Linked DNA regions of Homo sapiens: region 1 is linked to region 2. The links come from fine-mapping of genetic effects on gene expression. Tissue or cell type: whole blood. Region 2 holds a variant in brackets; the other region holds the start of a gene. All regions are shown on one strand. Distances are from middle to middle.

What was found. PIP is the estimated chance that this variant, and not a neighbour inherited with it, causes the effect.
Region 1: it holds the start of RAB21, and the variant in region 2 is fine-mapped to the expression of RAB21 in whole blood (TOPMed, PIP above 0.99). The same link has a PIP of 0.9 or more in blood mononuclear cells, fibroblasts and lung.

The regions. Positions count from the first base shown.
Region 1 is chr12:71,751,617-71,759,724 of GRCh38, reverse strand. RAB21 (RAB21, member RAS oncogene family) reads right to left here and starts at 4,862. Exons shown (of 7, transcript NM_014999.4): 1 at 4,437-4,862. The coding sequence starts at 4,595. RefSeq lists enhancers at 3,971-4,160, 4,801-5,090 and a silencer at 4,541-4,820.
Region 2 is chr12:71,787,994-71,796,101 of GRCh38, reverse strand. It overlaps RAB21 (RAB21, member RAS oncogene family), which reads right to left. Exons shown (of 7, transcript NM_014999.4): 7 at 1-8,108. Among named protein-coding and RNA genes, the nearest start is that of RAB21, 37 kb to the right of the region's middle. The variant C/T (reference allele first, on the strand shown) is at 4,198.

The DNA.
Region 1 (8,108 bases), 36 kb after region 2:
GACAAAGCATCTCATGATAACCTTGTGGGCAAGACAGATGTAGCTTGGGCAAAAAGGAGAACTGTAATGCTGGAGTAAATGTTTACATTTTATTAAGGGATTTGTGTCCACTAGGTAGTAGCCCATAGCAGTCAGTCTTCCATTATCATTAATATGTATAGCACTCCATTAACAACTGTTTCTTACTCAAGGGAAGGAGGAGGGGATGGCCTGTGGCCCATGCATGGCCCAAAAAAGCCCCTAAGATTCTATATGTCTACAGAAAATTGCACTTCTGGTCATGTATCACTGGACTACAGTAAAACTTGCTGCAGAGCTTTGCACTTGGCCCTCTCTCTCTGCTTTCTTTCATAGTCTTTAATAATGACCTGTTGAGAACATTAAAGGCATTCTTACCTAACTTTCAGATGACAAAGTTAAAAAGTAGCTAATCCAGACAGTAGATTCCACACCTTATTCTTTGCCATGTCCAGGACCCAACCCAGTACCTGGCCCAAAGGAGCCCAGTCAGTGTTTTGTGAATTACAGAATCCAAATTAAAAAGGACATTAACAGGCTTAACTATTGGAGCAAATCTACCAAAGCCAACCTTAATGGGTCAAGTATATTAGAAACAAAAGAAAAAGCTTAACTACAATACCAAAGAAAAGAGAATCTGAGAGATACAAATAATGCCTTTTTTTGAAGCAATTAAGACTAAGATGTTTCAGTTGACAGCAAATTCAATATTTATCAAAGAGAAATTCTGAGAGCTTCCCTAAAAGCTCAGAGAATCTCTTCTACTTCAGTGTTGGAAAAGGATTCTCAACAGGAGAGGTGACAGCCTGCACTTCTCTGTTCAGTTCAAACCACCACACCTGGAATTATTTCTACAGCTCAAGGAATCACACTTTAAGGAAAGGACAATGATTACATAGTGCCTAGAAGAGATTCAAAATAGTGAAAGGGCCAGGCACAGTGGCTCATACCTGTAATTTCAGCATTTCAAGAGGCCAAAGCAGAAGGATTGCTTGAGCTCAGAGTTCTACAACAGCCTGGGCAACATAGCAAAACCTCAACTCTACCAAAAAAAAAAAATTAGCCGAGCATGGTGGCGCACGCCTGTGGTCCCAGCTACTTGGAGGCTGAGGTGGAAGGATTACTTGAACCCAGGAGTTGGAGGCTGCAGGCAGCTATGATATCACCACTAGAGCAAGACTCTGCCTCCAAAAAAAAAAAAAGTGAAAGGATTTAAAACGATGTCACTGTCACTGGAGATCCAGTTAAGGGAGCCAGAGTTGTTTACCCAAGAGAAGACAAGATAGCTATCTTCAACTATCAGAAGGAATGTCATATGAGACACCAAGACTCAGTGGGGAGAATTAGGACTGAAAACTACTAAAAATAAAATAGGACCGGAAGTGGTGGCTCACACCTGTAATCCCAGCACTTTGGGAGGCCGAGGCAGGTGGATCACCTGAGGTCAGGAGTTCGAGACCAGCCTGGCCAACACGGCAAAATCCCATCGCTACTAAACATACAAAAATTAGCCAGGCATGGTGGCACATGCCTGTAGTCCCAGCTACTCGGGAGGCTGAGGCAGGAGAACCACTTGAATCCAGGAGGCAGAGGTTGCAATGAGCCGAGATCGCACCCCTCCACTCCAGCCTGGGTGATAGAGTGAGACTCCATCTCAAAAAGAAAAAAAAAAAAATTTAAAAATGAAATGGGACACCTTAGGACAAAGTGAGCTTTCCACTTTCCATAATACCAGTTCATTTCACCTCCAAGATGTTAAAAAAAAAAAGGGGGACAATCACTTGACTAAACATTAGAAGACCAAAATAGTGATCCATACATAACTGTCTTAAATTCCTGTCAATCCTGCAATTCTTTGAAATGTATGAGAATGTACTTTATAAAATACAAAGTAGTTTACATAGACAGGTACTCTGTTGACGAGAAAAAAGGTGAACTCTTCCTCTCATATCTTCTGACATGATTTCCTCTCCATTTGGAAATTAAAAGAATACAAAGTTGTGTCTTACAAGTCACATAAATCAAATTCCTCTGAAAAATTGTTAAGAAAGATGAGGTTAACTGGTATCTCTGAAAGAGATTAGACACATTGCTGTTTACATACATTGGTGTACAACAAAATCCTAAATTCTATAATATAATTCAGATATTAATACTGGATATCTACTATAACTTCATCCTCCCCTCTGTGGAGTACAGTGGCTTTTCATATATTTAAAAACCTTTACTCTGCTTTCAGTTTCAAGAATGTTTTAGAAATTTAAAATGGAAGTGTAATTTTTAAGTTGAAAGGGTATGGCCAGGTGCAGTGGCTCACCCCTGTAATCCCAGCACTTTGGGAGGCCAAGGTGGGCAAATCACCTGAGGTCAGGAGTTCGAGACCTGTCTGGACAACATGGTGAAACCCCGTTTCTACTAAAAATACAAAAAAATTAGCCAGATGTGGTGGCGTGTGCCTGTAATCCCAGCTACTTGAGAGGTTGACGCAGGAGAATCACTTGACCCAGGAGGTGGAGGTTGCAGTGAGTGGAAATTGCTGCACTTCAGCCTGGGCGACAGGGCAAGACTCAAGTTATCTTTTGAAAAAAAACGTGGAGACCTCAATTACAATAGTTTTCTTTTATCTTAGATCTTTGCATAAAGGAAAACACTAGATGGGTTATTTATCAATATACCGAGGTAATGTGATTTAATTGCTCAAAATCTGAAGTCAGACAGGGGTTCAAATTTGAGCTTGGACACTCCTGCCCCATTGACTTGTGGTAATATTACTGCCAGCAAAATTACTCAACTAAACGTTTTTCCTCAGCTGTAGGGCTATCCACTAAACTATCCACTTCATAGGGTGTTATAAGAATTAAAGCAAGCAGACAGAAAGCAAGCAAAATAATCAGCACAGTAAGAACTCACTAAATGTTAGCTATTGTTACTACTTTACCTAAGTAAATCTCTAAACTTCCAAATGATCCTAGGTATTTGTCCAGTGAATTTTCTTGATCTAAAACACCAGGCTCTCACTAATGACACTGAACAATAACAATTCATTATTAAAATTTTGTCAGTGTTCTGGTACAAGGATTTTTTAAAAATGCAGTTTCCTGGCACTCACTTTTTCAGATATGCTTTACATACGAGTAAAATCAGAGGAGTAAAAATAGAACATGGAATCAGAGCCAGAGCGTCTTGTAAATTCTAGACTCAGTAGTTTAATAATAGCATCAAACATCCAATGTCACAACAATTAGGAGATTACGCATTCTATTAAGTAGTGTCGATGTTCTCACATACTACACATTTACTAATTAAGACCTATTGTGCAAGTTGGGGCGGTAATTAAAGGCAGACAACTTACACTGGACCAGGTCATCAGTGCTTTTTCTGTATATTTATCCTGACAACCCTATGAGCTAGATACTACTATTATGGCCATTTTAACAGAAGAAACAGGCACAGACAGGTTAAGTAACTTACCCAGTATGACACAGCTAGTTAAATGGATGGAGGTGAGACATGAACCTGGACAATCAGGCTCAAAAGTCCACTAGACTTTACTGCCTTTGACCAAATTGGTAAGTCAAATTAGTAGGATAAATTTCTCCTAATAACATCAAAACTGATTTCTCTGGGAGAGGTGGGGTGAGTACAACTCCCTCAAAGGCCTGGCTTCACTCTCAATCAATGATAACATTTTAACACCTTTCCAATGTACCTGTGGAAGAAAGCCGACCTTTTATTTTACAGGTAAAGAAACTGAGTAACAGCAGCGGCTTTTAGTCTGGGGACCAATTGTTGGCCAGTATTCACTTGATGTTTCAGCGTGGGTCAATCGACCTCGCAGAATATGAGTGACCCGCAAGTCAGACCCACGCAGGCTGCAATGAAACTGCGTAACACGCCTAGGCAAGCGGTCATTTCAAAAAACCTCCAGAGATGGCTCTTTTGCCATTCCTGTTACTCAGGACAAAATGGAACTTGCATAAACACTTAGTCATCAGTAAGCGCTGAAGTTACAAATCACCTAATTCGCAAAATCAAATACGCAGCTAAGTTCCTAATTCTGAAAGAAAGAAAAGGAGCTAACATTTGGAGACTGCAACACTGACACCTGGGACCCAGGAACTGCAGTAAATGGGAAAAAACAGCCCACGGACGGAGACCACAACGTGCGCAGCCACCACGGGGAACACTGGGGACTTTTCAGGGCCCTTCCACTTCCCTCCCAACAGCCTGTCCTCGCGTCTACAGGCTGCCCCGACCTGGTGATTCCCCAGGGCGAATTCGGAAAGGTAAACCGAAGGCGGAGATGACAGGCCTGAGATTTGCCAGCCTACATCCAGGGGACCAGGGCGGCAAAGTTTCCCCAGCCCCGGAGGGGTAGGGGCCCTGAGGCGCCCCCTCCCGCTCCCCGAGGTCCGCACCTGCAGAGTGGTGATGTGCTTGTCGTTAAACTTGTTCTCGCAGTAGCGCAGCACCAGCGACGTCTTCCCCACGCAGCCTTCCCCCAGCAGCACCACCTTGAACGAGTAGGCTCGGCCCGCCGCCGCCGCCCCGCCGCCGCCGCCGCCGGCCGCAGCCATCCCGTCGCTTCCCGGCCGCCCGAGCCCGAGTGTCGCGCCGCCCTCCCGACAGCCGCGGCAGCGCCTTCACAGCCACGGCCGGCTCAGCCCCCACCGCCCCGGCCCCGCCGACCCGGGCGCTGTCCCCACGCCCTCCTCGGGCGAGGCCTGGAAGGGCTGAGGGAAAGTCCGAGAATGAAGGGCCCCAGCCCACCACGTCAGGCACCGGAGGAAAAGCGAAGAACGATCCCTCTCTGCCTCCCTCTAATGGCGTCTCCTTCCTCCTACGTCACACCTCGGGTCACGTGAGCGCCGGTGCCGGGGCGGCCCCTGCGACTAGCCCCAGAAGAACGTGCCTGGACGTGGGCGGGGCTTCTGGGGCATCTCCCGGGGTGGAGCTGGATGTGAGTCGAGCGCCTACTGGCAATCTAGGGCAGAGCCCCGCCGCTTGCGAGCCACCTCTGCTTTTCAGTTGGTGGGAGCCAGCGGGAATAAGGAACCAGGAATTTGAGGCGAGCCCAGCTCTGGTGAAATGAAGGGCAGAACTTCATCGTTTTTGCATGTTCACAATGCTAATGATCTGTCACACCAGAGGTCACTGTAAACCATATCTGCCAAGGTGCCCTTGAATCTCTCTCTGTGGGATCCCGAATCATAGCGCTTCCAAGTTCCTCTGACCGCCTGGTCAACTACTCCATCATCTTTCAAGTCTCAGCTTAAACCGCGTCCCTGACCACCCAATCCTTCCCCCATCCTTCCATTCCCCCACCTCACAAAATTAGGTATTTCTTACCACCAGTATACCTCCTTTACTAGGGCTTTACACACTCCATGGATATTATTAATACTTTGCTAAGTGTTTATCGACTCTCATTAGACTATAGGTTTGTTGAGGGCAAGGTCTGTATAAGAGCTGCCCACCTTTGAATTCCTAACCCCAAGTGCTCTTCAGTTTTTCTGACTTTCATGAAGCCTCTGACGTTCCATGGTACTCCACCTTGAGGTGGCTTGTTCGATGATTGCTTGTTTTTTCTCATCTGCATCCCCATTCTTTTTTGTTTGTTTGTATTGTTAGTTTTGAGATGGAGTATCGCTCTGTCGCCCAGACTGGAGTGCAGTGGCGTGATCTCAGCTCACTGCAGTCTCTGCCTCCTGGTTCAAGTGATTCTCCTGCCTCAGCCTCCCGAGAAGCTGGGACCATAGGCGCCCACCACCGCGCCCCGCTACTTTTTGTATTTTTAGTGGAGACAGGGTTTCACCATGTTGGCCAGGCTGGTCTTGAACTCTGACCTCAAGTGATCCACCTGCCTCGGCCTCCCAAAGTGCTGGGATTATAGGTGTGAGCCACCACGCCCGGCCTGCCTCCAAGAAACCATACTCCTCCAAGAAATCATACTAATATTTCTGAAAATTTACTGGAAACCTGGTGTCAGGTAAACATTTTTTTAAAAATCAAACTTCTTTCACACTTCAAACCAGGTTAAAAAAAAAAAAAGAGGCCGGGCGTGGTGGCTCATGCCTGTAATCCCAGCACTTTGGGAGGCCGAGGCGGGCGGATCACAAGGTCAGGAGATCGAGACCATCCTGGCCAACATGGTGAAACCCCATCTCTACTAAAATACAAAAAATTAGCTGGGCATGGTGGCACAAGCCTATAATCCCAGCTACTCGGGAGACTGAGGCAGGGGAAGCGCTTGAACCCGGGAGGCAGAGGTGGCAGTGAGCCGAGATCGCGCCACTGCACTCTAGCCTGGCGACAGAGGAAGACTCCGTCTCAAAAAAAAAAAAAAAAAAAAAGAGAGTCGGTTAATTCATTCAACAAATATTTAAATGTGCCCACCATATGCCAGGCACTGTGATCAACAAGATAAAATGTCTCTGTCCTCACAGAGCTTACATTTTATCAGGGAAGACAGACATACTCAATTGTACAATAAATGCTTTCATCTTGATGAAACAGTTCAGAGTATCTTGCAAGCATATATGAGAACCCAACTGATTTAGCATGCTAGAGAAGCTTTCCCTGGAGAAAGTTATCTTTGGGTAAGAGTAACCTAGTCAGGAAGGACAGGAGAGCTCTGCAAACAGAGATAACAGCATGTTCAATGGCTTTAGATAGGAAGGAGCATCTAAAGTTGAGCAACTGTAAATGTGACTAGAATTTAGGGAGGAAAAAAAAACTCCAGAAGAGACCATGAGGAAGTTGGGGATCAATACTGAAAGGGTCTTTAAGCAAATGAAGGATTTTCGTAAGATGACTGACATAATCAGATTTGACCACTCTGGCTATCATTTGAAAAGTGAATTGGAGAAGGATAATATTTTAGATTTGTTTAGAACCAACCATTAAAGAGACTCTATGTTTTATAAAATATCCTCATGATTGTATCTAAAGATATATTTTCCAACTCTCTCCTCCACATTCCTCCCCTTAGGGTCTTTGCACATTTATAGACACTTCCAGAACTAGAAAAGAACTTCATTTTGAGAGAGCACCTTCCATTGTTCTTTCTGAGCACTTCCTCATATTGGATTGAAATCTGCCTCTCTTCACCTGCAATTAATTATTTCTGTTTATATTTATACATTATATATCGAATCCCTATTCCCTATAAACATATGAAGAAGGCTGTGTGTTCTTCCTTTAAGCCTTCTCCTTTCTTCTTTTTGATACAGCCAATCCTTTCAACAACTTTTCAAATTGTGTGCATTTGATTATTTAACAGCTTGGTCATCTTAGAAACTAAATGCATTACTTTGCATTTATCACTAAATCAAAGCAATTAAAAATTTTTTTATTGTAAAACAAAATAATTTTTTTGTGAGACAGGATCTCACTCTGCTGCCCAGGCTGGAGTACAGTGCCACAATCACAGCTCACTGCAACCTCAACCTCCTGGGCTCCAGCAATCCTCCCACCTCAGCCTCCCGAGTAGCTGGGACTGCAGGTGTGTGCCACCACACCTGGTTAATTTTTTAATTTTTTTTGTAGAGACGATATCTTGCGTGTCTTGCTGTGTTGCCCAGGCTGGTCTTGAACTCCTGGGCTCAAGCAATCCTCCAGCCTCAGCTTCCCAAAGTGCTGGGATTACAGGTATAAGCCACCACACTCAGCCAAAATAATTTTCGAAGTTAAAATAAGTTTTTACATTTAGCTTACGTTGACATTTAAGAAGGTAGTGCAAGTTTTCATGGGTTACAATAAGTAGGTTGGCATACTTTTGAGCACAGAGTGGGTAAATATAGATGTAAATTGTAATAGGCTGATAACGGCCCCTAAAGATATCAGCTCCTAGATTCCGGAGCCTGTAGATGTTACCTTATTTGGGAAACAGGTCTTTTTGATTTAAGTTAAGGATCTTGAGATGGGGAGATTATCTGGGTGGGCCCTAACTGCAATCACAAGTATCCTTATAAGAGAGAGGCAGAAAGAGATGCTTCACACCCAGAAGAGGAGAAGGCAGTGTGACCATAGAGGCAGATTATGGAGCAATGTAGCCATAAGCCAAGGAATGCTTACAGCCACCAGAGCTG
Region 2 (8,108 bases):
TTTCCTGTTTAATTCTCAGAGTGCCCCATCAGGCATTTGCAGAGAGGCTCCTTGTAGCATTTCTTGGCGAGTATGTACATTAGAATGTCATAAAATTTCATTTGAGTTTATATGGTAGTTTTAATGGTTTGCTTTGAATCTCCCATTAGATGTATTAAATTAAGTAACTGGCACATGCAATTTCTAGTTGCAAATAAATAAAAAGCAAAAACAGCAAAATTATCTTGAAAAACTGAAGAAGTAAAAAACTTCACATATACTTTAAAAAATTCCATCACAGACTAAGGATTTTTGGACACAAAATTCTACTCAGTTTTCAACAATGTAGCAAAAAATGGGGGTGAACACCTCCAGTTCTCTAGTTCCAGTGTTTCCAAGAGATGACAGGTATCATCCTAATGAGCTTCAAAAAACCAGAGCAGAGATGTAAGTGAATTCAAGGACAGCATTACTAAAAATTATGGCATATAAAAAATTTAGAATTCTTCATGCAAATACCAGGTAGCTGGAAGCTTCTGTGTAATTTATAATTTACTGATCACAAATAAAGGCTTTTTTTTTCTTCTTTTGCCCAACTCTGAAAGAGGTATTAGTTAACCTTAAATTAGTTAAATTTGTGACTAGAGGTCATAGAAACAGTCATAGTCTTCCCTAATGATGTTTAAGCTGACTTTAAATGTCAGTAGAAGGCATTATTACGCTAGGGACATTCCCAAATTTCTCCATTTTATTAAATATAAGGTTTTGTTCTGTTTTGTTTTGTTTTCAAGCAGTGCTTGGCTTAGAACAGCTGCTGCTGCTTCTTTTTTAAGCACCACTACAAATACCATGATGCTTTGACAATATTTTTAAGGGGCTATTCATGGATTCTTAACTTTTAATATTCTGAATCACAAATCTTGCTCATTTTTATTTCTCTAATGAAATCCATCCATATTCCTAGAATTCATTATCAATAGAAAAGGACAAATAAAAGTCACTTGCCAGACTAGTGGTCTTAATCATCATTGAACTCTTTAGCTCTTAGTTCCATATTTAAGAAAATTCCCCCCAATTTTCAATAATCTTATCCCTGTCAAACATTCCACAGATGAGAATTGCTTACACATGGTGATTACTATGAAAATAATTCGACATCTAGTTAACAACTTTTAACTTTTTTTTTGAGACAGAGTCTCACTCTGTCACCGAGGCTGGAGTCCAGTGGCACCAGGTCTGCTCACTGCAACCTCCGTCTCCTGGGTTCAAGCAATTCTCCTGCCTCAGCCTCCCAAGTAGCTGGGATTACAGGGGCTCACTACCATGCCCGGTTAATTTTATATATATATAATATATATATGAAATATATATAAATTTATAAATATAGCTGGGCTCGGTGGCTCACGCTTGTAATCCCAGCACTTTGGGAGGCCGAGGCGGGCGGATAACAAGGTCAGGAGATAGAGACCATCCTGGCTAACACGGTGAAACCCCATCTCTACCAAAAAAATACAAAAAATTAGCCAGGCGTGGTGGCGGGCGCCTGTAGTCCCAGCTACTCGGGAGGCTGAGGCAGGAGAATGGTGTGAACTCGGGAGCCGGAGCTTGCAGTGAGCCGAGATAGCGCCACTGCACTCTGGCCTGGGACAGAGCGAGACTCCGTCTCAAAAAAAAAAAAAAAAAAAAAAAAAAAAATATATATATATATATATATATAATATATATATGGTTTTGTTTTGTTTTGTTTTTAGTAGAGACAGGGTTTCACCATGTTGGCCAGGCTGGTCTCGAACTCCTGACCTCAGGTGGTCCACCTGCCTTAGCCTCCAAAAGTGCTGGGATTACAGGCGTGAGCCACCATGCCACAACTTTTAACTTTTTTTTTTCTTTTTTCTTTTTTTGAGACAGGGCCTCACTCTGTCGTCCAGGCTGGAGTGCAGTGGTGCGACCTCAGCTCATTGCATCCTCTAACTCCCAGGCTCAAGCAATCCTCCCATCTCAGCCTCCTGAGTAGCTGAGACTACAGGCACACACCACCACACCTGGCTAATTTTTGTATATTTTTGGATAGAGATGGGGTTTCGCCATGTTGTCTACACTGGTCTTGAATTCCTGGGTTTAAGGGATCCATCCACCCACCTCAGCCTCCCAAAGTGCTGGATTACAGGCATGAGCCATGGCTCCCAGCCAGCTTTTAACACTTTTGATTGGAAAGGGCCAGCTTTAGTCTTAGCAGAGCAGCAAATGTCAGCCTCAAGGCAACATACCAAAGTAGTAAATTATTAGCCTAGAACCTAGAACCCAGAACCCAAAATCTACCATCTCCTTCCTTTAACAATGCCCTTTCTGACCATCTTCAAGAAAGTTCACCCAAAATTATGTCTTTCGCATAAATAAATTTCTTATGCCACTACTTTTGGCTAAAATCTTTTGATGGGGATGAATTACTCCTCTCACATCCTCTAGCTTTTCCTTTACAGGACTTTTATGTTTTGAAGAACTCATTAAATCACTAAATTTACTAACCTTTTGTGAACTAGTAAGAATGAAAGTAACTTGTGTATAACCAACTAATGGGATAGTTTGTGTGTGTGTGTTTAAACGGATGATTTCGCTCTATTTTCTAACCAGAAGGGCCAGGAGGACTAGATGATTTAACTTTATTATATTGTAATATCAAAAATATCCTTAAAAGACACTGAAAAGATGTTTAGAAAATTCATATTCATTAAACCATCTTTCTGACCTGTATCTTCAATTTCAGATAGAAAAAAAGGGACCCACACTCTTAAACTGGAGAGTGCATTTAGAATTACACAAACTATCCTACTATGACTCAGGAATGGATTGTGTTCTGGCTTACTGTGTGGTGACAAGGCCACATCTGTCAAAGGCAAAGAAAACAACATGATTGCTTTTTAAATTGTATTTTTTCTAGGTTAAAAAAAATCACCGCAAAACCAAACCAAACCAAACAAAAATGGCTGCTGTCTAAATAAGCAGGAGGCATCAGTTTATTCACTGCTACCACAAAATTTGGAAAAGCAATTTGGGTTAGAGGATCACTTAATTACCCCCTTGAAGCTAGAAAGTAAGTTATTCAATTTTAATCTGGCTTGAAAATGTATTATTTGCAAAATTCAAAAACATTCTTTCCAGCTTTACCTCAAATTCACTGTCAGCTTCAACTACTGTCATTCTAATTATCTCACTCCAAAAGTTTGGCAGGTACATATCTGATCAAACACAGAATGTGAACATGTGTGCACAGGTGACCTTATATCCCCAGATAAATTACTTATATCTTGGACTATGTGCAACAGGTATCAGCTCATCTCTAGGTTCCAACGATAAAGGAAGGCACTTTGGCTATCTGGTTCTCCCATGTATGTACACTGGGCACATAGCAGTTTGTGCACTGGGCATACAGAAGGCACTCAACAAATGAGTGAAACTAACCAAAGTCATAAAAAGCTGAATGTTTTAAAATTTTTTAAAATACAGAAACAATTATTAAACTCACATATATGCTTAACCTGCTTTCTGAATTTTCATTTAAAGTCAAACATGAATAAATGCATTTGTTCTGGGGCACACGTTTAACCTTGTGTCATAGCACACATATGCTAAGCTATAGTCTTGACAGTGCAGAGAAGCTCCTATAAATTGTTGGACACTGTAATGCTCTCCAAGTAGGAAAATACACCAAGAGGATGAGCCCAACCCAGAGTTTTATGTGTATTAAGGAGCTTGGACTTGTACATTGCTCTTTCCCAACCCTATTTCCACAGAGGATAGCATTCAAGAGTTTGACTTGACTTTCCCAGAACGCTACAAGTTTTTAAGCTTGATGTATGGTAAACTTACATCTCAAAAGTCCAGTAAGTAGTTAACTTCTAGTTCCAGAACTATTACTGCTGATTTAACTTGCTTTAAAAGAGTATGATTCTAGGGTGGGCATGGTGGCTCATGACTGTTATCCTAGTACTTTGAGAGGCCAAGGCAGGAGGATCACTTTGAAACTAGTTCAAAAACCAGCCTGGGCAACAAAGTGAGAGCCATCTCCACAAAAAAAACAAAACAATTAGCCAGGCGTGGGTGGTGGTGTTATGCACCTGTAATACCAGCTACTTCGAAGTCTGAGGTGGGAGGATTGCTTAAGCCCAGGAGTTTGAGGCTGCAATGAGCTATGATCATGCTACTGCATTCTAGTCTGTG[C/T]GGCAAAGCAAGACCCTGTCTCAAAAAAAACTTCCAGAAAAAGAAGTATGATTCTAGTTGGCCTTGGTAAATTGGTCAGTTGAGGGTGGAATTTGATATAGGGTAGAAGTTCCATTCAGGGAATGGAAAATTTACAAAGGCCAAATATAAATATAAAACTGCATAATAAAGACACAAACCAAACTGTTAACAATGGTTACCTCTAAAAAGGGATGTGGGATGATGAGGGAAGGGAGATCTAAAAAGGAACTTTTGTTTTTACTCTATATTAAAGGCACAGATCAAATACAAGTTTGAATTTTTGGTAGCATCATGTCCTGTTATGGGAGTTGCTGTCAGAGTTGTATAAAGACTTGTTTTAGTTTATCTTGTACTTTTCCCCATCAGTTATACCTTTCCTCTTTTTCCTTCTTCCCTCCAATAAAAAACGTATTCTGATAAAAGAATCTGCTAAAGTTAACTCCTAGATTTTATACACTAAGCAGTCAACCGTCAGCCAAAAGTAATGAACTTCAAATACATTACAAGAGGCCTTCTAGTTTCCTGATTCACATGCTTAAAGCAGACCCTGATTCTGTCTAAGCATTGGCTTGCATTTAAATTCTATGATACTGACTGGGCCTAGTGGCTCACATCTGTAATCTCAGTACTTTGGGAGGCTGAAGTGGGAGGAATGGTTGAGGCCAGGAGTTCAAGACCAGCCTGGGCAACACAGCAAGACTTCCCATCTCTACTAAAAATGAAAAATACAAAAATTAGCCAGGCATGGTGGCTTACACATGTAGTCCCAGCTACTCAGAAGGCTGAGGCAAGAGGATTGCTTGAGTCCATGAGTTCAAGGATGCAGTGAACTATCACTGAGCCACCACACTCCAGCCTGGGTGACACAGCGAGACTGTCTCAAAAAAATGAAATAAAAAAATAAATAAATTTGGATACTAATGAAATCCACCTAACAGACCAGATTCCTTTTCAGGTTTCATGGAGTCAGAGGCTATTTTAAAAAAGAAAAAAAGAAAGAAAAAAAAAAGAAAAAGGCAAGACACATCCATAGAAATGTGGGAGGAAATAAAATGAAAAAGTCTGTATTTACCAAAGAGCTCCTAGACACGTTGGCAAGAGAAAAGGCAAATGGCAAAACACATGGGTAAGACACAATTTATGTGAAAATTTAAAACCCACAACACTATGTATTTCTATATGTAAACATATAGATATATTAATACATAGCAAAAAGATATTTGAGGAGTATATACTAGAGACCAATAGTTACTACCATTTGGGAGCACTACCAAAGGGCACTTTGACAATATATGTTTTTTATTCTTTTCCTAGAACATTTTCTTACATAATTAAATACAAAATGAGGAACTTTCATATTTCTAGGAAGTACCACATACAATGATTTCCTTAAAATAGCTTGCTACTAAAGCTAGAGTTTAGCAGATACCACTTCTTTCTACTTTTCAACATTATACTTTATCCTTGCTATCCCTCACCATTCTCTCATTGATCTACACATGTTCAAATGTAAAGAAATCACCTTAGCTTTTTCTTAAAATACGTGATAGTGAAGAGATGATACAGTTGCCAGAAAGTATCAAAATCAAGACTGAGAACTGGTATAGTGGGAATAAAGGCCACTGAAGTAGGCAACTCCACCTCCTCTTGACTTGTGCCTTTAATATGATGCATTTGAAAATATGTGCAGACTTCTAAAGAAAGATGCTTTAAGAATAAGAGACCTAACTGGGTATGCTGTGTAACATTAACTCATCATGTTTACTCATATATCTACTGAAGAGAAAATGTTGCAGTAGAAAGGTTAATGCGCCAAAGCAGTTTTCCAGAAAAGCAAAAATGTATAAATCCTAGATAGCACAAGAACTGCTAAAGGTCTATCAATTAAGTGGTATTTATTTAGAAGAGAAGCATTTCTGCTTGAAATTGAAAACTCTTAGGAGTATTTCTAAATTTTTTCCAATACATAACACTATTAAAATATTACAACTAGGAAAATTTTGCTCAAAATTGCAACTGTTTTCTTGAAAAGGTAAAGGCCATCAGACATATGTGTAGCACGAATTTTGGTCCAGAACACCAAATATATTACTCTGTTATAGTTGATTACAGATAACAGAACAGCAACATACTAAAATCAATGCATATTATGAAATCAAGTAGATGCGGTTCAATAAATTCCAGCTTTTAACTATTAAAGCCTAGGTAATGCATTTTATAATTTAGAGAAGAGTACTTAGGGATCTACTCAGTTTATATCTTTAGACATTATTGTGAGGCTCCTGCGGGTCACTACTACTATCTATATCCTTTTCCAGAAAATATCAGCATCTTAAATGGTCACAAATTATGTATTCCCTCTTTGTCACACTGAATCTACAGAGAAAACTGAAAACTCTACAGTGGCAAACAAGTCAAAAGATGAATTCTAAAAGTTAAAGGCACAGATCAAACTACTTTTAGAGATAACGTAACGGGTAATTATAAGAGTAAACTATACTATCTGAATATGTAAGATCAACTATCTAGAATCCTGGTAGCACTTATAATACAGAAAATTGCAAATTATATAATTAAAGAAATAAACAGTATCACAATCCATTTTTAAAATGTTCTTAATATTTGGCATAATGCATAGTTTGCCTTAATTAGAAACTCTTTGATAAAAGTAATGTACTTTTCAAAGTGATTTAAAAAACTGTCAGGTTGTAGTTTTTTATTTACTTGACTTCCATTCTATTCCTCCCTATGCTCTTTCCCTATTTTTCCAATTTTATCTTTCACTACTAAAAACCTAAAAGTGAAGTACTACTCTTCTTCTTCACTTTAATGTCAAATATAAAGTACTCCACTAATAACATATGGCTACTATTAAAAAAAAAAAAGATTTCAATGCAGTAACAGCCATAGCTTTAGGGTATTCTTAGGCAACACCCCAGACAAAACAAATCTGAACACTTATATTTCATACAATAACATAATGCTTTTTTCTTTTCACATTACTGCTTACCCCAAAAGCATGGCAATATACATTTTCAAAAACAATCTTCCCCTGTAATTACAATGAAAAACAAGAAGCAGAATACCCATCATCATTACAGAAACAATGATTGTATACTTTTAACATAATATTCAGGTATTTTTAATCACTATCTTAAACCAATTTTTAATTATATAAGTTAACTGTATATGCTTACTGGCTGAAAAAATACTGGCACAACCTACCTACTGCTTTTAATACACAACGTGGTAACTTGTGTCTTCTGCCTAATAGCACAATTATCAGAAAAAGAATGCAAAAGGTATATTAGAGAAATGAAGAAAGCATCAGAAAAATTTCCTCAGCCTTGGTTTATCATCTCTTTGTCTTTCCTTTGTATATATACTGAAGTTGACTGGTCCTCTTTCATTACTCTATTCCTACCCAAAGACCTTTTGGGTTTCAAAGTGACAGCAGCCATATCATGTTGTCTATTGTTGCTATTGAATTAGCCTCAATTACAGGCCCCCACTAAAAAGGATAAAGAAATACGTGAGGTTAAGAAAGATAACACAGAAACCAAAGGAGAAAAAAGAAAAAAAAAATATGAAGAATAGTTATGACCCACCAATAATTATCTGGCAATTCTGGAGCAGAGGTTCCTATCTAGCTGTTTCATTAAAGTAGGATGAAAAGCTGAAGTATAGCTCTCCAATTATCAGGCTTTAGAACGTTTTTTTAAAATAAAGCTCAATTTCATCTCTAACTAGTTTTTGTGCCTTTTACGAGATGGAGGTCTCAGTGTTACCTAGGCTGGATTTGAAATCCTGGCCTCAAGTGATCCTCCTGCCTCACTCTCCCAAGTAGCTGGCCCTACAAATGCATGCCTCTGTGCCCAGCTACTCTAGTT